3 separate regions of the Homo sapiens genome follow, and all the other regions are linked to region 3. Evidence: fine-mapped QTL for protein levels in blood plasma. A gene starts in region 3. Each other region holds a variant in brackets. All regions are shown on one strand. Distances are between the middles of the regions.

Region 1 (8,175 bases), 37 kb before region 3:
ACATTCCCAGCATTTTATGAACGCTTCCATTGCCCTACATCTTTGTCCACACTTGATATTATCCTTTTTTCAAAGCCATTCTGGTGTCTGTGCATCCTGTCTCATTGCGGCTTTCATTTGTATTTACTTGACGACTAATGGTGGAAAGCTCTTTTTCTCATGGCCATTGGCCATGACATTGCTCCATAACCACAGTGTAGCTCCAGTCACACTGGCTTTGCCTAAGTCCTTCCAATAGACCATGTTCCCCACCACCACAGGGCCTTTGCACATACTCTTCTCTTTGACCTGGAATGCTCTTCTCTCCCTCTGCCTACCCTTTGTCCAATAAACTCTCAACTTATAATCCTTCTTCATTTATTAGCCCAAGTACTCACTCCATCCTCAGGAAAGTCCTCCAAGCTCCAGCCTGAGGCAGATATATTGGGCATACAGAACCACAGTATTGAATTGTGTTCCCCCTCTCCAAAATAGGCTCATGCCCTAACTCTTGGAATCTCAGAATGTGACCTTATTTAGAAATAGGGCTGGTGACCAGGCACGGTGGCTCATGCCTGTAATCCCAGCACTTTGGGAGGCCAAGGCGGGCGGATCACAAGATCAGGAGATCCAGACCATTCTGGCTAACACAGTGAAACCCCAGCTCTACTAAAAATACAAAAAATTAGCCGGGCATGGTGGCACGCACCTGTAATCCCAGCTCCTCGGGAGGCTGAGGCAGGGGAATCGCTTGAACCCGGGAGATGGAGGTTGCAGTGAGCCAAGATCACGCCACTACACTCCAGCCTGGGTGACAGAACGAGACATCATCTCAAAAAAAAAAAAAAAAAGGGGGCTGGGACAGATGCACTTAGTTAAGATGCAGTCAGCTTAGAGCAGGATGGGCATATCCAGCATGACTGTGTCTTTAAACAAGGGGATATCTGAACACAGAGACACACAGGCAGAGGACAGATGATGTAGAGGCTCACTGGAAGAAGCCTGAGGTACCAGGGAGGCAGAGACTGGGGTGATGCATCTACCAGCCCAGGGATGCCACAGAATGCCTGAGGCCACCAGACGCTGGAAAGGGCAAGGAGGGACCCTTTCTTAGAGACTTCGGAAGGAGCGATGCCCTGCTAACACCTTGATTTCAGATTTCAAGCCTCCAGAATTGTGAGAGAATCAGTGTTTGTTGTCTTCAGTTTCCCTATCTGGGCTCCCAACTTTGTCATGGCAGTCCCAGGGAATGAATGCACCTGCTCCTCTCCTTCCCAGGACTCATTGTAATTATGCATTCCCAGGTGGGATTTTTTTCAGTAATTTCATCTCCCCATTAGATTACTAGATTATCAGAGTTGCAGGTTAAAAAGCATGCCCGACTCCCTTCTATTCTCTTGCATCCTTCATCCAAACCTCATCTGCCCTGCATCAGAAAATCCTACTTTCAAAATAACCTAAATCCAACCACTTCCAACCCCCCTCCATCACGCCTATCTTGGCTCAAGCCAGTACCATCTCCTGTCTAGGGCCTGAAGTCACCGCCCTTGACAGGCCTCTGCTTCAATGCTTGCTCCCCAAAAGTCAACACAGTGACTAGGTTGATCCGTTTCACATGTAAGCCACAGCATGTCATTCCTGTGTCCAGAACTTTCCAGGGCTCCCCTAATTGGCTCACGGCTAAAAGCTGAAGTCCTTCCAGGGGGCCTGCAGGCCTCCTATTACCTCTGGCTCATGTCTTCTCCCCTGATGCTCACTCCAACCTCCTGCTGCCCCTTGGCTATACCGAGCATGCTATACCTGACCTTTGCTCAAGCCATCCCCTCTGCCCAGAATGCTCTTCTCATACCCCCTTGGCTCCCCATTGATCCCCTTCTTGAAAAGCAGCTGCCACCTTCCCAGAGTCTGCCCCCATGACTACCACTGCCAGCTGTCCGCTGGTTTTGTTTCCCTTCTCTCCATAGTACGTGCCACCTTCTAACATACTATAATAGTAAACACTATGATTTGTTACATTTCCTGCTGATGTAGTTTGGATCTGTGTCCCTGCCCAAATCTCACGTCAAATTGTAATTCCCAGTGTTGGAGATGGGGCCTGGTGGGAGGTGATTAGATCATGGGGGTGGATCTCCCCCTTAGAACTGTGTTTGATAATGAGTGAGTTCTCATGAGATCTAGTTGTTTAAATGTGTGTGGCACCTCCCCAGTCTTTTGCTCCTGCTAGGGGCATGTAAGCAGTGCCTGCCTCCCCTTCACTTTCCGCCATGACTGTAAGTTTCCTGAGGCCTCCCAGAAGCAGAAGCCACAATGTTTCCTGTACAGCCTACAGAACCGTGAGCCAATGAAACCTCTTTTCTTAATGAATTATCCAGTCTCAGCCGTTTCTTTATAGCAGTGAGAGAATGGACTAATACATCTGCCTTGATTTGCCTCCCGCACTAGAACACAAGCTTCAAGGTGGCAAGAATCCTTGTTTTGGTCATTTAGGCATCCTCAGCACCTAGAACACGACCCAGCACATCATAGGCCCCCAGTAAATATTTGCTAAGTGCTCAGGGCTCTTCTGTTTTTGCTCAGCATTGTTTCCTCAGTTCTTATGACAGTGCTGAGTACATGAAAGGTTTCCAGAGGTGTGTTGTGTTTTTGTGTTGTTGTTATAATAAAATGAATAAATAAAAGAAAGAATCTGGCCAGGTGTGGCGGCTCATGCCTGTAATCCCAACACTTTGGGAGGCCAAGGCGGGCAGACCACTTGAGGTCAGGAGTTCGAGACCAGCCCGGCCAACATGGTGAAACCCTGTCTCTACTAAACATACAAAAATTAGCTGGGCATGGTGGCACGTGCCTGTAATCCCAGCTACTCAGGAGGCTGAGGTGCAAGAATCACTTGAACCCGGGAGGTGGAGGTTGCAGTGAGCAGAGATCGTGCCACTGCACTCCAGCCTGGGCGACAGAGCGAGGCTCAGTCTCAAAAAAAGAAAGAAAGAAAGAAAGAATCTGCTGTTATTCTTTCTTTCCCTCCTCCTCTCCTTTTTTCTCCCCTCCCTCTCCCCACCCTGGCTTTTTCTGCTTATATAGCATTTATTGTGTCCTTGAAGCACTAACACAGAATGACCTACACACCTGATTCCCAACCATGCACCTCCAGGAGACGGTCATCTGACCTGTGTGTAGCAGGGCAGGTGCCCTGGGGAACCATCCCCATGAGGCATCACTGGAGAAGCAGCTCTGACTGCTGAACGCACACACAGGCTCCGGGGGTGACTACTGATGCCTCTCAGATCAGACTTTTCTGGGCCCTTCCTGGATGTGGGCGTGGGAGAGCCTAGGGGAAACTCAAGCCAGTGGTCAGGGAGATAAGGCAGCACAAGCTGAGAGGCAGGGGTGGCCCAAGAGCTAGTGAACAAATATATATATATATATAAAAATATATATATATAATATATATATAATATATATATTATATATATATTATATATAAAATATATAATATATATATAATATACTTTTATATATAATATATATAATATATATTTTATATATATTTGTTTTAGAGATAAGGAAACTGAAGTCAGGGGCTAAGTGACCTGCCCTAACCCCACAGCTACTAAGTACAGACCTGAGACCCTAATCTCAGTTTTCCGGCTGTAGATAACCCAGGGCTCCTTCCCTGCCAGCTCCAGCACCCAAGTGATGGCTCGGCTTGTTCAACAGACAACCCCCGGAGCCTGTGTGTCTACTCCGCAGTCATAACTGCACTGTGCCTTCTCCAGCGATACCTCATGGGGATGGTTCCCCAGGGCACCTGCCTCACTGTACACAGGTAGGATGACCGTCTTCTGGATGTGCACGTCTCCCAGCAATCAGGTGTGTAGGTCATTCTGTGTTAGTGCTTCAAGGACACAACATATGAAATTTAATAACATATTAAAGAAAAATGCACACAGCAAACAGAACAGAATCTATATCTGAACCAGATAATCCTGTGGTTCCTTAATAATCTGTGGTTCATGGGTCAAGGAGGCTTTGGTGGTTTTGGACCCTTTTTACTTTGGTTACATTGTCCTTCTACCGGCTTGTATGTCTACACTGTAAGCTTCTTGAGAAATAAGAACAGCATATTACCATCATACTAGATATTCATTTTGATTTCTCCAAGGGAGTCACAATTTAAAATATTCAGTCCTGTTATTCCCATAAAAATCCAAATACCCAAAATTCCAGTGTTTTGGCATCCAAACACTGTCTCCCAGACTGTTTGCTTGAAGCCAGATGTAGAACAAAATCCCTTTATCAGAACAAACACGACATTCCTTGACTCGGAAACTATGTCTACTGTGATTATTTTTGCCTCTGCAGCACTTAGCACATATATGGCCCCCAAGAAGAACTTGTGAGACACAGTAAGGTTTTGCATAGCCAGGAAAAACAAAAACAAACAAAACAGAAAATCGGGAAGGCATGAAGGAAGAGATAGGCTTAGGGTCAAAGACACGGGTGCAGGGCCCAGCCACAGGCAGGTGTGGGTCGGGCACAGGTGAGACCTGGGAAAATGGTACTGCCAAAGGTTCTCCATAGACTTCCTGCCAGGAGAAATGTGGGTGGCCTCCACCTTTGGTCAAAGTGGGGCCCCAAGAGCACTGGGGCCAAAAGGTACAGGGAGACACGTACAGGACGTGCCCTGGAACATGAGCTGTGACACAGGATAAAACTCAGTTGGTTCAATGTTCTAAAACTGCATTCATGTCTTCATGCGGGGGTACAAATGAAGCCACAGGCAGCAGCCGCCTCCAAATATCCCACCTCATTTTAGGTAAAAAGTGGATGAGAACACTGGAACTAGATTCTAGTACTGGCATCGAGGTGCTCCATATAATTTTTTTAAGGAAATGACTGAGGAGAGGACTCATGATTCCTTCCAGCAGTGCTGGGGAAATGGCTCTGACAGACACTATTATTATGGCCAGACGTTTCCTCCTGGAAGAGCTGCAAGAGGTGAGCCTCTCTCTCTAGGGGACCAAACTCTCAGTCATTTCTAACATGGGTGAGACAAGACCTGGTCCACAGAGTGCCAAACGACCGTGACCAGGCTATCACAAGGACACCCAGAGCTGTGCAGGGAGTGTGCTACGTTTTTCCTTGTGACCTCAAAACATCAGCTGTTTCTTCCAAGCTCTGATCTAAGCACCAACTTTTCTACATCCCCATTTATAAGGGATGTAAGTCGGTCCCCAGTTATAGGCAGGAATTGTGGTGACATCCTGAGTCCCAACCACACACTTGGTGTTTCATTTCTTCTGATCACACGTCAGACCCTGACTGACTTACTGTAATTTAAATTCTTGAGAATGAGGTTGAAAGCCAGCCCTCTGACACGGCAGTGCTTACTACTGCAATCTGTTTGAGGCTTGCCAGCTA[G/A]GAAAATATCCAAAATAATAACAGTGGTGCAATAAATCACTTCAGCAGGGCTGCTGTCCCCGAACCCCCTTCCTTAGTTTATGACCCAGGGAAAATATCTTAGGGTCCTCAAAGGAGGATTCTTTGGGGTGGGGCAGGTGATGAGCTGCCATTAGATGACCCACCTGAACATAGGGTCACTTCCTAAGACTACCTACAGGCAAAGGATCCAAGCATGTTTTGTTTTGGTTTGGTTTGGCTTTTTTTTGTTTTTTTTTGAGACAGAGTCTCATCCTCTCGCCCAGGCTGGAGTGCAGTGGCATGATCATGGCTCACTGCAACCTCAGCCTCCCAGGTTCAAGTGATTCTCCTGCCTCAACCTCCCAAGTAGCTGGGATTACAGGCGTGTGCCACCACGCCCGGCTAATTTTTGTATGTTTAGTAGAGACGGGATTTTGCCACATTGGCCAGGCTGGTCTTGAATTCCTGACCTCAGGTGATCCACCCGCCTCGGCCTCCCAAAGTGCTGGGGTTACAGGCATGAGCCACCGCACCTAGCCCTAAGCATGATTTTAGAGGTCATTGTCAATATGTTCTCTTGGAGACTCAGAATGTTAATTTCCAATCTGTCCGTAGTTGCTCCCAGAATGGAAGAAACCAGTGACTGTTTCTAAATGAGATCACAGCCTCACAAGTGAGTTAGTATAAAGGGGTCCTGGGCGCACAGGAAGAATAATCATAGGTGAGGGGCCGAACTTTTGCTCTCCTGCTGAACTGGATGTCTTCCTTGAATTCCTGAAAAGTCTATTTTGTCCCAATGTAGTGATAAAATGTAAATGTTGGTTTTTTTCTCTAACCTTATATTATTAAGTTAACAAAAGTAAAATTCTACTTGAAAAAAAGGAAGTATTGAGTTATAAGGACTCTTTCAAAGTCTTCTGCTTAAAATGATGGAAAAGGAGACAGGTATTTCTGTAGTAACACGGCAAATGTATTCCAGTAAAAGTTCCCAGTCTAAAACCCAGCTCACCAGCCAGCCCATTCAAAATCTATACAGGTCTAGAAGCAGAAGACTGAAAAAAATTAATTTTAAAAACACATTAGCACAATTAAGGAGACACGTTGAGTTGCTCAAAACAGTGTTTAAATACAGCTGTAATTATAGGATTTGATCTGAAAAGGAAACAAGCAGGGAGGCAGGTGATGCCAGCGATGGAAGGCGGCGTGGAGATGGAAGGCGGCGTGGAGATGGAAGGCGGCGTGGAGATGGAAGGCGGCGTGGAGATGGAAGGCGGCGTGGAGATGGAAGGCGGCGTGGAGATGGAAGGCGGCGTGGAGATGGAAGGCGGCGTGGAGCTGCTGAGTTGAAGGCTAGGGCAAAACGGAGAAGAACCTGAGCAATGCACCAGCACAGGCCCCACTGACGCCGAGGAACAGGAGGCACAGGGCACCACGCACGGGACTCCGCAGCTTCCACGCTCGCCCCTGACAGTGCACTCTGTGGTCAGGTGCTGGTGCTGGGTCCCACAGACTATTCATAGACTCCACACTCACCCGTGACAGCGCACTCTGTGGTCAGGTGCTGATACTTGGTCCCACAGCCCATTCATAGACTTTACACTCACCCGTGACAGTGCACTCTGTGGCCAGGTGCTGATACTTGGTCCCACAGACCACTGATAGACTCCATATTCACCCGTGACAGTGCACTCTGTGGCCAGGTGCTGGTGCTCGGCCCCACAGACCATTCACAGACTAGCAAAAGTCACACATGAACCAATGCTGCTTCTGTGTCATAATGACATCATCCCTGTATCTGCCAACCACACAGGGCAAATATGCACTAGAAAAACACATGTGACAGCAGACCAGCCTGCCCGGCCGCCTCCTAGGCTTCTCCTGCTTAAGCTCCCTTAAGCACTGCAGCCACTACACAGAAGCTTTGTTGATTCAGCGCATCCATATGTGCAGACACCGCGCTCACACAGGGTGGGGAATACCCAGAAATGCAAGAGACACATTTTCTGCAAGCGGCTCAGCATTTGGCGAGGGTGCAGATGAATAAATCAATGTGAGATAACTGTCAGAAAAGAGAGATGTACACGGTTTGATCACTAGTCCAGCTGTTGGACCTATACCACTTCTATCTGTTGACTTGGGAGGCAATTTTATGGCATCATTAGGAGCAACAACTCAAGGTTTAAAGCTGCCTGGATTCTTAATCTGCCCCTCCTGGGAAATGTGAGCTGAGTCATCCCATGCTCCCTGTGTCTGTTTTTCTATAAGGCAGAGGTAATAATAACAGTACTGTCTTCCATGTTGGAGGAATAAATGAAATCACGTGCATAAGGCACTTAGCACTGTGCCAATAATGCTTGGAGCTGATTCCCACTCTCCCTCTGCTAAAGACTGAAGCATCTTGAAGGCAGAGAATCCCTAGGGCTTTTTGTCATGGCCCTTTCCATGCCTGTCACATAGCAGGCACCTCACAATGGTCTGCTGCAAGAATGAATGCTAATAGGTAAGAATATGCATTTGAGAACTGCCAAAGGCAATTCTTTTTCTTTACTCCTTTTGACACTCACAATTCCATGACGGAGGAAGAGCCAGCGGTGGGACCTGCACCTTCCTGATGACGACACTGAGCCTTGGAGAATGAGGGCATCTCACCCGAGGCCACATGGCTGGTCAGCAGAGCGACCAGCACCAGCATCCCAGCCTGTGAGCCCCATACCTTCCAGCCTGGACCACAGCCACATCTGCGCCTATAGAGTCCTAGGCCGGCACAGCGCTAGGCTA
Region 2 (8,175 bases), 28 kb before region 3:
CGTCCATATCCTCAGTGCACCTCCCATGTTGCAGGTGCTATTCTGCACACCAGGGGCTGGGCAAGCAGGAGAAACAAGGCCACATCTAACATGGGGCTTACTCACAAGGAAGGGGCAGATACAACCCAAGGAAATAAGTAAATGAAGGTTCAGAGAGAGACCCAGTCACCCAAGACCAACCTGGGACTTTCCTCATACAGTAACTAGAAGCCACCAGAGCCTTTCAACAGAGGAAGGAGATGATCCAGGGAATGTTTTAAAATCAGAAGTCACCTAAGGTCACCACTCAAGGAACTCTGTGAGTGATTAGGACTCTCATCTTTCTGATGAGGCAACTGAGCCTCAGAGACATGAGATCATTTGTTCCAAAGTCCCCCAATCTAGAAACATCAAGGCCAAGGTCTGCACTCAGCATGCCTGTCTACAACATCTCATTGGCACACCCTGCGTGGCACTCTGCCGGTGGAATTCCCAACTGGAGGGACAAAAACACCACGCTCCCCCGACCTTCCCATTCAACCCCAACACATTTAGGATTAACAGGACCTTTTAATTTTTGACCGAAAGCACAAATAAATGTGAACACTTTCTCTTTTTCAAAGGATAATTTCAATTATAGAGAAATCATGCAAAGCATCAGACGACAGCTCCCCTAATTAATGCACAAAACAGGCTGCACACGCCCTGCTTGGATCTGACTGTCATTTCCTCAGAGGCCTGGAGCCCCGTCTAGGGTACTGGAGGCACTGTGGGGACACGAACATAGCTCCAGCTCAAGCTTTGCGGGCTCATGTGTTCATCCCTCATAAAACATAAGAGATTGTTTGCAGTTGACAGTTGTGCACATCCAAATATTTCTTATTAGTTATTATTCTTTTTTTATACGAGTATTTATAAACCAACCTTCGGATCTCCTTAAAGTTAGTTCTACAAATGTTCTACCTGAATTCGTCTGAACTGAAAAGTGGCGGAGGTTAAGCAGTTCGAAAGTCTGTTTGATGCGGTGCAGTCTGAGGGGTGGGGTGGAGAAAGAGCAAAGCTTGGAGTCAGAGCTTGGCTCAGATGCCCCCAATCCCATGAGCTCCCTGGGAAGGAACCTTATCTGTTTGTACACAGTTCCCAGCACAGCAGCTGCCCCTAGCACATTTACACAGACCGCTGGGGGAGTCAGGGGTCCACTCTGCCACTTGGAAGCCATTAGCTTTGAGTGCACCCTTGATGGCTCTCAGGGCCAGGGGCAAGGAACCTCCTCCCTCCCTAGGCCAGAGATGGTGCACGTGCAAAGGGGCTTGGAAACTACTCCCAATACAGAAGAGCTATAGAAAGAAAACTAGAATATGGTGCCATTAGAGAGCCACACAGGACGGTAGAGATCAAGTGCTAAGTTGAGAAAGAACAGATCAGCAGGAGGTGGGGCAGGAACAAAATGCCCTGGGGATGGGGCGGCAGAATAACTCCTACCCAAAGATGTCCACGCTCTAATCCGCAGAACCTGTGCATATATTAGATTACACAGCAGAGAGGAATGAGGGTCACAGATGGAATGAAGGTTGCTTGAGGAAGGGAGATGATCCCAGGCTATCCAGGTGGGCCCGGTGTAATCTCAAGGATCCTCAAAAGGGGAACAAGAAATCAGAACAGAGAACCAGACAGGCAGTCACATGAAGACTCCATCTGCCTTTGCTGGCTCTGAAGAAGGAAAGAGCCACTAGCAAGGAATGGGGCAGCTTCTCAAGACTGAAAAGGGGAAGAAAATTGATTCTCCCTACAGTCTCCAGAAAGAGCATCGCCCTGCATACCTTGATTTAGCCCAAGGAGACGTCTGTCCTCCAGAACTGTAAGAGAATACATTTGTGGGAAGAGGCTACGTTTGTCACAGCAGCAATAGGAAACTCATACATGGATCAGATGGGATTCATGTGAGTGGAGCATGGTTGGGCAGTAGAAGTTTCAGGCAGGGGAACCTGCTACAGAAAGGGCCTGGAGTCAAGAATTGCACGGCGTGTAGAGTGTGCAGGCAGGAGCTCACCTTCCTGGAGCAAGACCTCGGACTGATGGGACTGACAGAGAGGGAGGCCTGACAGTCTTGAGGCCCAAGGTCAGAAAGGCCCTTGAGCCTCCAGGAGGGAGACCAGCCAGGATGTGCATGGTCCCAGGAGCCATGCAGGGCTTGACCCGGGGGAACACAATGGAGGGAGCCACAGGAAAGCCTGGAAGGTGTGTGTGTGGCAGAGACAAGAAGCACTGGCAGGGAGGCAAGGGAAGACAAATGCCACTGCCTCGTGTGCCACGGCTCTGCCCCGCCATGCCCCAGGCATTCCACCTTCTCCTCCTGTCCTTTCTGGACCAACAGCATATGGAAGAGAAGTGTTCAAAAGGTGGAAGAGGAACAACCTGGGTCCAGGTACTGGTGGTCTCACTTTTACTCACGACAGTCTTTGGAGAAGACATTGCCTCCCTGAGTCTCAGAGCTCTCTCTGTAAAATTAGGATCATTCAGCAATATCCTTTCTTACTGTGAGCATCCAGGCTAATGCATTTTAAATCCTGCGCATTGCCTGATCCAAGCTCAAGGAACCAGAGCAATAAACAAGGCAGTCAAAATCCTTCCAACCACAGGGCCAGGTACCTGGATGTTGAGTCTCCCTCGATGTGCCCCCAGGCCATAGCGCTTCACCGTGGAGGCATGGAGCTGGAAGTCTGTGATTTTTAAGGTTTCCAGACCAAGAGGTGGGCAACCTGGAAAGGA[CA/C]AATGCTTGTTAAAAACAACGACAGATGCTGAAAGGGATGAGTTTCTTATTTTCTAAATCTGGCCGCGTGCTTTTCCATTTTCCCCTGAACTCCCACCCACAGGCATGCCTGGTCTTTCCAGACACGGTTGATTGAACTGTCAACATTAAGCCAATGTTCTTTCTTGTTGGCATTTGCTTTAGGGGTGTTTTTGCTCTGATATTCCTTCTCTTTTGCTGTCCATGCTACTGTCTGAGGCTGTTCCCAATTAAGGATCCTTCCCCAACATGACTCAGTCAGGAAGCATCATTGGAGCTCTGCAAATTAATCAGAACTTGCGGATTTTGCTTCAGCAACTCTGGCCTTTATATTGTGCATGCTAATGAGCAGAGGAATATAAGCAGAAAAAAAACCTATTGTTTTCCAGTCTCTGCAAAATGGATAACATGGAGCACAGCTAGTAAACACCATTTGCCCCTGGAATAAAACACCAGTGCTTGATCGTCCCAGCCTAGCCCATTGTCCGTAAGAATGACAATGCTTAAAGCAGCATCCAGAAGGGGTCTCCTGACCTCTGGGCTGCTGTTTGCCCCCACGCCCACCACAGTGAGTGGTGGAGCATTTAGTGAAGGCGGAGGGGTGCACACAGTGAGTGTGAAAGGCCATGCAGCGAGAGGGGGCCACATGATGAACCGGGGGTCCCCGCATTGAGGGGGTTTGTGCAGCAGGCATGCCAACCACCCGAGGCTGACCTCACAGAGAAAAACTTGGCTACCATGCCCCCTTCCTTCCCCAGGGTTTGCCCTCACACCTTCCAGGCCTGAAGGACATGAATCTGACCCATGTGGTGGCAGTTCCTGGGTCCCACATGTTCACTCTCCATCCTGCCTACCAGAAATGGACCTCAAGTGGCTGACCAGCAGGGTTAATCCTCACACGACATACTCAGAAATCCTCACTGCTGGGCCTCCAACAGCCCTGCCTCCTCATAGAACCTTCTCATGCTGTCCCAGAAGCCCCACCCTGCCACTCTCGTGGTCTGGCACCTCCGCAGCTTGGCCCCTGAGCCCAGGTTATAATCCCACACCCCGTCACTCTCTGAGACAGCTGGGAGCCTGGGCCCGTGCCCTTCACTCTCACCTCAGGACAATGGGCCCCTGCTGTCGGATGCCATTCGCCTCTTGGAGCTCACAGTCCCCAGCGGTCACTGGTATCCACCAGAGGGCCTTGTCAGAATCCAGGGCAAGCTCTGAGAGTCAAGGCCACTGACCCATTAGGCTGCCTGTCCCTTTGGAGAGGCTTGACTCCAGGACATCCTGCAGCCTGGCCCCAGGAGCCTGGGCTCTGGCTGAAGCTCTTGGGCTCCCTAAGCTGGGGTTGCTGCCCTGCTGTGCCCCATTCTCATCCTCGTCTCCTGCTCACTCCTTGCTCTTCTCCCCATCACCTGGTCTCAGCCTATCCTGCCTTAGACACAGTCAGCATTCTCAGGAATAACCGGTCTGTCCTGAGAGATCCCGCCCACCGAGAGACCCCACCCACTGAGAGAGAGACCCCACCCACTGACTGTGACACCAAGCTGGCTAGGCAGCAGGTTCTGTCAGGCGATTCCTGGTGGCCTGGGAATAGCCTCTATTTATCTTCACTCTGCCAGCTGTGGTTTCAGGGTTCAAGGGACCTGGGGGGTTTCAGACCCTGATGGGGAACCAGGCACAGGTCCTGTCCCTCCATGTCCTGGTACTCAATACATACCCACAACAGTCCCACATAACCAAGCATCAGAAACACCAAAAGGATCTGCTGCCATCTTATGAACCTATTTCACTGCCGTGTTGAAGGCCTTCCAACCACCAGCTTCTTCCTTGGTAGCAGAAGACACAGCAGGAGGTAAATTCCATGGACTTCCTTCAGCAAAGCCACCTTTATTTATATCATTTATACACTCTAAGTGAGAGACGGACAGATGGACAGATAGCCCACCAGATGGACAGGCAGACATATATAGATCATGTACCAGCTCAATAAAGCAACAATAATTGCTATTCAAAACATTTCTTCCAGAAAAAGAGCACGACTCCTATGCACGTGAGTATTTTAATTCAAAAAAGGAAGTACCTGACTAAAATTACATATCCATCAAAATTGCTTTTCTGTCGACAGACAGAAGCTCTGTCACATCCTCTTGCCAAGATACATAAGGGGTGAAAAGAAAGTGCCCCCAAGTGAGGTGTTTCATGGGTGCACGTCTAATAGCAACTGAAAAGTGCAATGCCTGCCCTCTCACGGGCTGAGTTTCCCGCCGCCAGCAGTGCTGGCAGCTGCCACATCTAACAGCCATTCTTGTCCACTCCTGTGATGGTGTCACGGCAAAGCCAGAAACTTCACCCCCTCCACCCACAGCACAGATGATGACTTTGGTGGGGGAGCCCAGATAAACACACACGAACTTGGCCTGCTCGCAAACGTAGTCTTACAGGAACCCAATGCTCTGACACTGGGATTTTTTGTCCTTATTAGAAGATGCTATTTTTAGAGCCATTAATTTTGGTTTGGAAGCCTTCTCCATTGCCCGTGCCACTTACAAAGAAGCTAGAGATTCCACACAGAGAAAACACAATGTCCTTGAAAGGCAAAGACAGAGTTACTGATCCGCCTGGGTTAGTGAGGGCCCTTTGGTTTTAAGAAACCTACCACAGCCAACTTAGACAGGAAGGGAAATCCCTAGAGAAATGAGAGGGATGGCAGAAAGTGAGAAGGACAGAGGCGGGACACAGGACACGTGCAGGTGGAAAGGCACAGAGCTCCCGTCATCTAGGAAGCAGAACAGTGGATTCCAATGACACTGTCCACCTCCTATCACACCTCTGAGTTTCCACTCAACCTCACGCATGCCTCCAGAGAGGGCCTGACTCACCTGGTCCCCTGGCTGCCCACTGGGATCAGGGTGCTGTTAGCAAAACAAGGGGACGCCAAATTCACAACCGACATGGGGCACGGGACGGGCACCTGCAGCTACTGCCCAGAGCTGAGGGTGAACACAGCTCAGGCAGGCTCGCCCAGCTTCTGAGTTATGGGTTCTTCCAACTGCCTCCTCCTGGCCAACCCCAGGAGGGGCAACACCTCCATCTCTGCTTCTTCTCTCCCTTCCTTTCCTGGGATTTTTGCTCCTGACTCCATTCATTCACAGTGGCCCTGGTCACTTTGTGGCCCTTTGGGACTCCTCAGCCTCTTCTCCGTTTTTCTGTACTGGGCCCCACAATTTCTCCCTCTCAGCCACTCCTCCACCCCCACACCACACACAGCCCTGGTTTCCATCACACAATGTTCTGCTCTTTCTCTTCCCTCTCGGTCCAGACCTTCCTTCCTTGTTTGGACTTTTCTTTCCACCTTCCCCAGGGCAGTCTTTCCTGGCTGCAGCACGGGCTCATCACCCTCAGACTGATTCCCTAAGAGAGCCCCTCCCCTTCCCTTTAACAATCCACCTTCTGAGCCCACACTTCAGCTATGAGGTGTCACAGGCACCGTCTATGCCACTCAGCGTCCAATCACACGCACAAAGTTTAAATTCAGGACCGGGTGCGGTGGCTCACGCCTGTAATCCCAGCACTTTGGGAGGCCGAGGCAGGTGGATCAATTGAGGTCAGGATTTCGAGACCAGCCTGGCCGATATGGTGAAACCCCATCTCTACTAAAAAATACAAAAAATCAGCCAGGTGTGGTGGTACACGCTGTAATCCCAGCTACTCGGGACGGCGAGGCAGGAGAATCGCTTAAACCTGGGAGGCGGAGGTTGCAGTGAGCCGAGATCGTGCCACTGCACTCCAGCCTGGGCTACACAGTGAGACACTGTCTCAAAAAAAAAAAAAAAGTTTAAACTCAGACGACTTGCTTGTCTGGAGACTGGCCTGTTGACGTGGCAGGCAGGCCTCAGAACCCTGGAGGCCCCCATCAGGCAGGTGTGAACGCTGCAGCTGGAGTAATCCGCCTGCAATCTGCAGCTGAAGCAAATACCCAATCATCTTCCAATGTCTGCTGCAAAAGAATCTCCTCAAGCTTGTCACCACTTCTTCCTCGGCACTCTGTCCCCTCACTTTTGTGTGGCAGAGGCTGCAGTATCAGTCAGGCACACAGCAGTAAAGTCAGCTTCACTTGGAAAGTTCTTATTTAATCAATCTTCCATTCTTTATTTTTCCCTTTGATAGCCTCCTCTCCTTCCTTCCATCCCACGTCTGCCTCACTCTGACTTCACCCTATTTTCCATGAGCATCAGGGCAATTCACAAATGCTACTGCAACCCAGCCTAACACACGGCGCCATGCCCCGCAGTAGGCATCCTGCAGGCTCAGATAAAACTACACACTGAGCCAGCTGGGAGTTACCCACCTTCCCCAAATCCCATTTTAAAACATTTTTTAAGTTAAAAAGAAGTTTAAGCATAAAGTAGTCTAAGCACAAGCCCACTATCCCACATCCCTTTATGCAAAGATCAACAAGGCAAAAATCCCATGTCAGAATCAAGCATCCCAGGAAAAGTTCCCAAGCCCATCTTAAAGACATATTGAACATCTGACACAGGAATCTCCACATTTAGAAAAAGGCAGGATTTTCCTATGCTAAAGAATGAGAAAGTAAGGGGCTAGAAAATAAAAGACAGGAAAATTATCTTTTGCTTTAAAGATCTAAATTAATTCGAAATACATAATATTGAAATACTCATGCTTAATATTTCACTCTGAAGAATTTCAGAATATTTCAACCTGATTCATTTTTCTTCTTTTCTTTCTACCTTCAGAGCGTCATCCTAGAGATTTCTTTCTTTTTTTTTTTTTTTTTTTTTTTGAGAAGGAGTTTCACTCTTGTCACCCAGGCTGCAGTGCAATGGTGCGATTTTGCTCACCGCAACCTCCACCTCCCAGGTTCAAGCAATTCTCCTGCTTCAGCCTCCCAAGTAGCTGGGATTATAGGCGCCTGCAACCATGCCCGGCTAATTTTTGTATTTTTAGTAGAGACAGAGTTTCACGATGCTGGCCAAGCTGGTCTCAAACTCCTGACCTCAGGTGATCTGCCCGCCTTGGCCTCCCAAAGTGCTGGGATTACAGGCATGAGCCACTGCGCCCGGCCCATCCTAGAGATTTTTGACAGGTCTACTCAATGTCCAAAATGAATAAAGTGACCTGCTCCTCCCCCTTGGGTTCTCCTGCTAAGGGGAACAATACTACAGTGGGGAGAAAATTATGCAGGATGAGGAAACCACTTGCAAAGCATGCGAGCCACGTAAGAGAGAGGAGGTCTGGGGAATCTTAAACCTGCAGAATGGTCTGGAGGCCTCAGAGCCACAGGGGCTAGGGTAAAACATTTGAAAACATCTGCAGTTCCTAGGCCTTCAGAGGCCTTGAAAAGTGGATGAGACCTCTGTCAGCCCCACCCTGGGCTGGCAAAGACCGAAGGG
Region 3 (8,175 bases):
TGAAGCAAAGTACAGAAGTTTGCATTAAACACTCCAGGCCACAGTCCAATGTTCCTTCCTATGTAAGTGCCTTCCTAAGATATTCCAAAACAATCCAATGCAGAGATAAGTGCTTCTATTACACCACGAGCAGCATATAGATCAAGCCGCTACTTAAAGTAGAAAAAAAATAATTTTCTCCTAGTGTAGTTTAACTGCACAAAACTGTCACTGATTCCCCTAACTAAGTTCACGCTTAAACCAGTCTTCCCACTTTGGTCCAGGGCAGAGGATTCTGCTGAGCAAACACCAAAATAAAAAAGGACAGGAGTTAAAAATATGAGATAAATGTCACACTTGTCTTGTCATGGTTGGGGAGAGCTCTAAAAAAGCCCCACAGAATTCATTAGAAACACAGCTGACATGGTAGCAGGTCTGCAGGCAGCTGTCCCAACAGGCCTCTGATGTGAGTCTCTAGATCTTCCGAAGACGTGTTTTCAGTATGGGGCTTGGAGATCCCGGTGGATGCCAGGGCTGCGGTGAACTGGGCAATGTGTCCTGCAGGAGCAGAGGCTAGGCACCGAATCAACAGGCTCCCCCATGGCCTGTCTCTACCTGCAAGATGGCCTTCCAAAACCAAATGAGCTTTTTCTTGCAAATTCAGGTTACACTCTGATTTCTCCTCCAGAGACCCCATTCCAAGAGTGGCAAGAGCTGTTTCTCCAAGGACTAAAGAGAGTCACTTCCCCATGTAACCCCTGAGTCTGCAGACACATTAGTCTGTGGACACTGCTCAGGCCAGGCTGTGACTTTCTGAGATGTGTTTTGTAGGGAAAGAAACCTATCTTAGGAATGATGTCCGGTCACTTGTACGAGTCCCCAGGACAATCAAGCTGACTTACTTGTCAAGTCTTAAACATCACCTCTTCGGGGAAGCATTACGCAAGCCCCCACAGATTCAGTGAGCTCCCCCAGCTTGTTTGTTACCTTAACACCCCACACTTTTGTGCAACCCTTAACACAACTGTGATTACTTTCTCAGAGTTCCCAGCTAGTTCCATGTGGTGGGGGGCGGGGGCTGGGGGGCAGGGAAGAGGAACGTCTTGCTCTCCCCATTCCTAGGATCTCACCCAGCACCAGTGCTTAGCAGGTTCTTGGTAACGGCCTGTGGAATGAATGAAAGGTTCACAGGAAGACCAGCACATAAGCGGGCAGGCACACTGGAAGCTTTCATTAAAAAGGTTTTTACAGCAATTGACAAAGTAAAGTGAGGTGGCAGGTGCAGTCTTCCTATTTGCAAACGATGATGAAGTTAAAGCTCAGGAAACTGAGCCATGATTCCAGATCCCCAAGTTGATGAGCCCTAAACATGGGTGTTAGGCCCAGTCTTCAGACTCCCAGTCTGGGGCTCTCTTCCACTTTCCCCCTTAGCACTACCCCCAGTGACTGCCAGAACCCAACATACATGTCTCCTGCCTACACCACCCTACCATGCCCAGGACGGAGCTAAGCACATTGCAGGCACTTAAAAAAAAACTAGAATGCATGTGGATTTGATTCAAACTACCAAACCAAAAAGGCCTTGAGTTAAAAAGGACAGAAGAAAGGCTTTCAAATATCCCAAGCCAGCAAGTGACGCTGAGCAAGTTACTTAAACTGTCTGAGCCTCACCCACCCTTCGGAGCCACTGAAAGGATGAAATGAAACTGGCACATAAAGTTTCTAATGGAGTCACAGTCGACATTCTACAAATATAAGTCTCTTCCCACTCCTAATCCTGTTATTAAGCCACTGTAGCTCTTAAACATCTGAATTCCCATAACTCTCCCTGAAACACTGGAAATTCTGGATGTGTTCAGGGTTGTCACACAACTCAGAAATCTCCGCCCATTCAAAGTTGTCCACAAATGGAAGCATGCCAGGGCCTCTGCAAAGGGGGGTGCTCATATAGGTCCACCCTTTCAGGAGTTCTGTGTCCTCACCCCTCCTCCACTTTCCCACTGCCCTGGCTGCTGACTTTCGTGAGCAGTTTAACCAAACAAAGACGATGCCTTCCATACCCGGAGCCCTGTAACGGTGGCACCCGCACGTATCTCCTTTCAGGAAAGGCCATTGCGAGGCCAGAGAATTTGGCCACATTCCTGCTCATGCCCCACTCTTGAAATACCAGGCCTGCAGCCCCTGCAATTTAAGCAAAGAACATTTGGAACTAGAGAAAGCCCCACTTCACAAGGTGGTTAATAAACTACGTCATTTAGTGGAAGTCATTTTCCTAAGAAAATGAGGTTGGCAGAAACTGAAGATGGATTTGAGAAGGGTATGAGACTTGGATGAAAGACGGAGCACTGCAGGCAGCCAGGGAGCCCCCAAGCCGGAGTCCAGGCTGCAGCAGACTCCAGGCACAGACTCCCCAGTGGAGGCTGTGCCATCCTGCCCCAGCCGGGCAGAGGACCCAAGAGACCCGCTGAGAGTGGGAAGGAGGGAGCTGAGAAGGGACACGACTGGGTAAAGGCCTACTGGCAGAGCTTTCCCTAGAAGGCCATCTGCCAAAACAGCCAGCCATCCACATCCCCAAAGCGGAAATTCAGCCGCATTTGAGGATTGAAGAAGTAGGCAGAGAAGTAAGAGGCATCCAGCAGAAAGACCCTTAGCTCAGGGGATTTCAAGCTTGAAACAAGAACTTTGACTCTCATAGGCAGCCTCCCAATTGCACAGCTCCCTCTTTACCTAAGGGCATAAGCCAGAGCTGAAATGCATGTCAGGGTCAAGGACAAGTTCTGGGAAGCTGGGCGGGCCGGCAGGAAGCGCAGATACAGTCCCTAGGGAGGCAGAGGCGGCAACAGGGAGATTCCCGGGACTGGCCCATCCCAGACACACACAATGGGAGAAGCCAGTTGTCCCCTGGAGGCGCGCAACCACCGGCGCCCCCTCGGGCTGCCCAGCGCAGAAAGTTCCTTACCTGGTGGAGGCGGCTCCGGAGCCGACTTCTCCCTCTTGGGAGCTTTCTTGGGCTTGGTGGCCCTCTTGGGCGGCCTGGGCTCCTGCGGGCGCCGCTCCCACTCCTCCCCGGGCCCCGCAGGCAGCGGCGGAGAGAAGGTCTCGAGCTCGGGCTCCGGGCGCGCGTAGTAGGGCTCCCGGCTCCAGATCTCCTGCCCGTAATAATCAGGGTCCTCGAGGGCTGCGCCCTGGGCTCCGACCCCGGCCAGGGTCACTGCCAGGAGCACCAGGGCCAGCGCTGGGGTAGCGGTCCCCGGGCGGGACATGCCTGCTCCGCCCCGCGCCCAGGGCAGGGTCACGGTCACCGGGGGCGCCGGGCGGGCTGCGGGCGCAGAAGCTGGCGCGGGGCAAGGGCGCAGGGCACAGCAGAGCGGCGCGCTTGGGCGCGGGAGGCGGCCGGCTGGCTGCGCGTGTGACCGGCCCGCGGGGCTGGGCTGGGCTGGGCCGGGGCGGACAGGGGCGCGCAGAGGCGCGGGGCGGGCGCAGGGGGGCCGGCCCCGCCCTTCCTTCTTCCCTCCCTTTCCCGGCGACCCCTCCGAGGCCGGTCCTTGGAGGCAGGTGTTCCAAGCAGCCAAGCCCAAGAAAGCCCCCTTCCCCTCCCCCGCAGGCCAGCCAGCGTGGGGCCTGCTTCCCCAGAGACGCTAATGAGTTTCAATCTTAGAAGAAAACACTGAGGCCCGCTGTTCCATTCCTGTTTTACAGGTGGAGAAACGTGACCTGAGAGAAGAAAAGATTGGCCCAGGGTCCTAAAGTAAATCAGAGCCCAAGCAGCCTCCAGCTCTCAAACCGTGCCCCGTGTGCTGACCATTCCGCAGACGTGGACTTCCCACTAGCCATGCTACTGTTTCAGGAACTGGGAATGAGGAATTCCTGAGGTTCCCGGGGTTTCTGGGAGTAAAGTTCCCTGGGAGCAGGGCCTAGGGACCCTGGAGGAGCCCTCTCCCATCTGAGACTGTGATTCTGTTGGGTCTTGGGAAAGACAGTGACGTTACCCCAAGGTGGCCATCCAGGGGTCACAAGAGGGTTTGTGGTTCATCCAAGAGCAGGCTCTTGCCCAGAGGGTCCTTTGAGAAAGGGCCTCCTGCTTTGGACAACTCTGCATGGGTTCTTTATGCGGAGCCCAGGCCCATGGCCCTGCGGCTTCTGCTCTCCAGGCGGGGATGTGGGGAACCAGGGACTGCATCGTTTCCCTTGCTGCTGTAACAAACGATGACAAACTTAGTGGCTTCAAACAACACCTATCTCACAGCTCTGCAGGTGAGAAGGCTGATGCGAGTGTCACCAGGCCAAAATCAAGGGGTCAGCAGGACTGGTTTCTTAGGGGAGCCTCTGGCGAAAAGTCCACTTCCGGGCTCACTCAGGTATTGGCTGAATTCAGCTCCTTGCGGTAGTAGGACTGACGTGCAGTTCACTCGCTGGCTGTGGGCTGAGGCGCCTTTCCTCCTGCTGGCTGCCTGTGTTCCTCCTCATGTCTTCTGCAGGCTCCTCCAGGCCTCTCCCTGGTCCTCGCACGTGGGCCCGGCATCTCAGAGCCAGAGCTGGCACAGCTTCAAATCGCTTCCCTTCCTGCCACATCTTTCCGCCTTCCAGCTAGAGAAAATTCTGTGCTTTTAAGAGAGTGTGAATAGATGGGCCCACCCAAAAAATTCAGTATAGTCATCCTATCTTGAGTGGTGACCTTAACCACATCGGCAAAGTCCATTTTGCCATGTTCCCTAACTTTTTGCCAGGTTCCGTAACTATCTCTTGTTCTAGGTATTCAGGTGTAGATGTCTTTGGGAACCCATGGAGTGCGCTACAGGGACAGACTGACCCTCAAGCCTGCATTGGCCTGTCACCTTCCCAGTTCCTCTGGGTCTGTGATGTGATCCTACGATGCCACTGAGCTGAGTCAGGGCACCAGGGCAAGGCCTCACCATTGCCCTGGAGTGAGGACTTCCCTAGAGTGGGGGCTCCTGAGACCCCACAGTGGGCAGGGCTTGGACCAGGAAGGTTGTCATTCTCTTTCTGCGCAGGCCACTCCACCAGGCCATCTTTTAGGGCCAGTCTTCCAGGCTTCCAGTTTGAAGGCCAAAGCAGAATGACCAGAGGGAGAGGAGGAGGCTGCTGGTTGAGGCAGGGCCTGTCTGCAGGGACCAGGAGGCCTTGGTCCTGCCTGTCAAACCCCCAGGACGCTCTGGAATCCAGAGCCAGCAGAAGTCCTCAGGGTGAGAGGGCAGGAGGGTCCCCTTCCCCACCCACCACTCTTTGCTCCCCAACCCTTCCTGGATCCCCACCCACCCTCCTCCATGGCCTATCCCCAGGGCTCACTCCTGGGGACTGTTTTATCTGAAGCCAGGCACTCCAGACGACAACACAGTCTTTAGTGGTGAAACAGAAAGCGGCTCCAGCAGCAAGCAACACACCCAGCGTTCCAGCGAGCTGTGTGAAGCGCTAACAAGAGGCTGGCCTGGCATCCTGGCCAGAGGGACTGCAGAGGCAGCCCAGGCCAGGACGGTGCCCTGCACCACCTCCATCAGAACCCCCAGAGCTTGCTCAACAGCAGACCGACACCCAGGCGGCACCCCAGACCTTCAGAATCTCCTAAAGAGTGGGTTCAAGTACTAGCATATCTAAGAAGTTCCTCAGGTAATTCTGATAGCATCCAAATTTAAGATGAATCTTCTCCCTCTCATTTTACACAGGATCCTGAGGCCCAGATTTACCTGAGGACACACAGCAAGCTAGTGATGGCCAGGACTAACCCTGCTCTGCTGCCTTTAACCAATATTTAAAGTCAGGCCATATACATCCCAATGGCCCCAAGCCCATGAGTCCTGAAGACACTTTACCGCTTTTCAGCACCTCTTAGGTGAGTAACATAACATATACCCGCTCTGCAGTGTCTGGTAAGTGTCCAGAGAAGGCCCTACCCAAACATGCCTCTCAACATGTCCCTGGAATAAAGAAATGAGTCCCACTTATTACTGCTCTCCCTATCAATGCTTGCTTGTTTGTTTTCCCTGGAGAGACACATAATTAAAGCAAGTAGGACAAATAGAACAAGAATCGATTGCACTGATGCCAGTTCTCCCAACACAGAAGCCCACGGCACTGTTCCTGGAGCCTCCTTTGTCTACCTCTGGCTCCCTCTCTCTGGTGCTGCCCGTCCTGGAAAGGTGCAAGGCACAGTCAGAGCTCATGAAGTTTAGGAAGATAGGGCGGCAAAGCTGACCTCATTCTCTTGGTTTGCAAGCCTTATTCTTTCTCCCAACTCTCACCTATCTGCCTGGGAGGGTCCTGCGTTCTTCAGCTTCTCAGATGAAGACCTCCCTGGTCATCTTGGCCCCATCTCTCCTTCACCTTCTAATACATAGCAGTAAGTCCTGCTGCTCTCATGGCACACATTCTTTAATCTGCCTCTTCCTCTGTTCCCACTGCCCATCACTCAGCCCATGGTTCAGAGACCCATGGCAGATGATGGGAATCCGTGCTCAGCAGGTCTCGCTGTTTGGGCCTCTCTGATCTGCCGTCCACTCTTCCTTCAAGGCAACAAGCCATTCATTCTCCCTAAACACCCGTTAACAACCTTGCTCCCCGACCGAAGAATCTGCAGGGCTAACCAATCCCAAGTAAACCTAACCCCTCTAGGTAAGGTTCAAGGCTCACCAGCTCACTCAAACTTGGCTCTTTCCACTTGCCACTGGGCAACAACCATAAGACAGATTCTTTTTTTTTTCTTTTTTTTCTTTTTTTTTTTTTTTTTTTTTTGACAGAGTCTCACTTTGTCACCCTGGCTTGAGTGCAGTGGCACCATGTCGGCTCACGGCAACCTCTGTCTCCTGGCTTCAAGCAGTTCTCCTGCCACAGCCTCCCAAGTAGCTGGGATTACAGGTGCCTACCACCACACCCAGCTAATTTTTATATTTTTCATACAGACAGGGTTTCACCATGTTGGTCAGGCTGGTCTCGAACTTCTGACCTCAGGTGATCCACCCGCCTTGGCCTCCCAAAGTGCTGGGATTACAGGCGTGAGCCACCATGCCCGGCCAAGACAGACTCTTAATGGCCTCCTGCACAGCACTGATAAGCTCTGTGATTATTATAATATGCTAACTTTGCATCTTCCACAGAAACCAACAGAATATAAGAAACACAGAAAATTTCAATAACTCCTTCTGCATAACTAATCTTGCCTAGAGTCTTTCACGGCATCAGCCAAAGAATGTTTCTCTCTAGGACTTTTTTGTTCTCAATCTAATAATTTGTCTGTTTAACTCAGGACTGGAACCCTCAGGAGGGGCTGTGAGTCTCTCCGCGTAGTGTAAGTAGAACTCCAGAAAGCACTGATTCTCCCTGGATGTCAGCCGTGCTATAAACCAGACACACCAGTCGGGGGTAGTAATGGGGGCAAACTGGGAAACCAAAGTGGCAGTTCAGAATCCCCCCCAGTTTCTGAGTTCTTCAAATGGTGTTCTTTAAAGTCAACCATTGTTTGCCTCAATTGAGAATCTGCTAAGTGCACTTCTGCTAAGCAAAATAAGCCCATGTTTGTCCATTCATTCATCCCTTAGACAGGATTCTGCTAAGCCAGTTTCTGTTATACAACATAAATCCATACTTGTCTGATAATCCTCAAACACCTTACACGGCTAATAATTTTTCAAATATTTATGAGCCCCACAAAGGAGATTTATGTTAAGCTGCTTGGCAAGGAACAATAGAGTGTGCAGGTCTAGAGAACATTCTGTTGAAACAAATATTGTCAAGACATCAATATTTTTATAGCATTTTTCATTACGGACTTTTCACACCTGCTCATTTCCCTAATTATCCCTGAGACTCTTACACTTTCAGAGAGAATGAAAATGGAATTTTTTGAAAGATCATTAATTTGAAAAATTAGCTGCTATATAAAGAAAAATACATACTCAGGCACAGCCATTACTAAAAATATAGTCTTGAGATGGATGCACAGGGAGAGAGATACTAAGTTGTTATGGCAACTATCATTATAATTACAAAGCTGGAGGGTTTTTCTCGTTCATTACTGTGTTGAGATGTGATAGTTTAAATGGCAGTGTCCTTTGTGATGTCCTCAATCTCATTACTACATAATTACCCATTTCATATTTAATTTTCAGCATGTTTGTTCTTACTCCCATACCCTGTACATTTGGCATCTTTTGATAAGCCTTATTCTTAGTTCATGGGTCCCTC

Alleles and levels. Positions count from the first base shown, and alleles are read on the strand shown. Strength reflects both the effect of a copy and how common the allele is.
As copies of G replace A in region 1, the plasma level of the protein whose gene starts at base 3,390 in region 3 goes down (moderate association).
With allele C in place of CA in region 2, the plasma level of the protein whose gene starts at base 3,390 in region 3 is lower (moderate association).

Evidence for each region. PIP is the chance, under the fine-mapping model, that this variant and not a neighbour inherited with it causes the effect. Protein levels are from antibody-based Olink assays in UK Biobank. Linkage for the fine-mapping came from a reference panel and not from the study's own genotypes, which makes the PIPs less certain.
Region 1: its variant is fine-mapped to the plasma level of the CPXM2 protein (UK Biobank, PIP above 0.99).
Region 2: its variant is fine-mapped to the plasma level of the CPXM2 protein (UK Biobank, PIP above 0.99).

What each region holds. Positions count from the first base shown.
Region 1 is chr10:123,850,956-123,859,130 of GRCh38, forward strand. All of the region lies in intron 3 of CPXM2 (carboxypeptidase X, M14 family member 2), which reads right to left. Among named protein-coding and RNA genes, the nearest start is that of CPXM2, 37 kb to the right of the region's middle. The variant G/A (reference allele first, on the strand shown) is at 5,398.
Region 2 is chr10:123,859,986-123,868,160 of GRCh38, forward strand. It overlaps CPXM2 (carboxypeptidase X, M14 family member 2), which reads right to left. Exons shown (of 14, transcript NM_198148.3): 3 at 2,629-2,738. Among named protein-coding and RNA genes, the nearest start is that of CPXM2, 28 kb to the right of the region's middle. RefSeq lists enhancers at 1-192, 3,693-4,434, 5,981-6,788. The variant CA/C (reference allele first, on the strand shown) is at 2,749.
Region 3 is chr10:123,888,418-123,896,592 of GRCh38, forward strand. CPXM2 (carboxypeptidase X, M14 family member 2) reads right to left here and starts at 3,390. Exons shown (of 14, transcript NM_198148.3): 1 at 2,939-3,390. The coding sequence starts at 3,242. LOC105378534 (a long non-coding RNA gene) reads left to right here and starts at 5,287. Exons shown (of 3, transcript XR_001747622.2): 1 at 5,287-5,566; 2 at 5,661-5,827.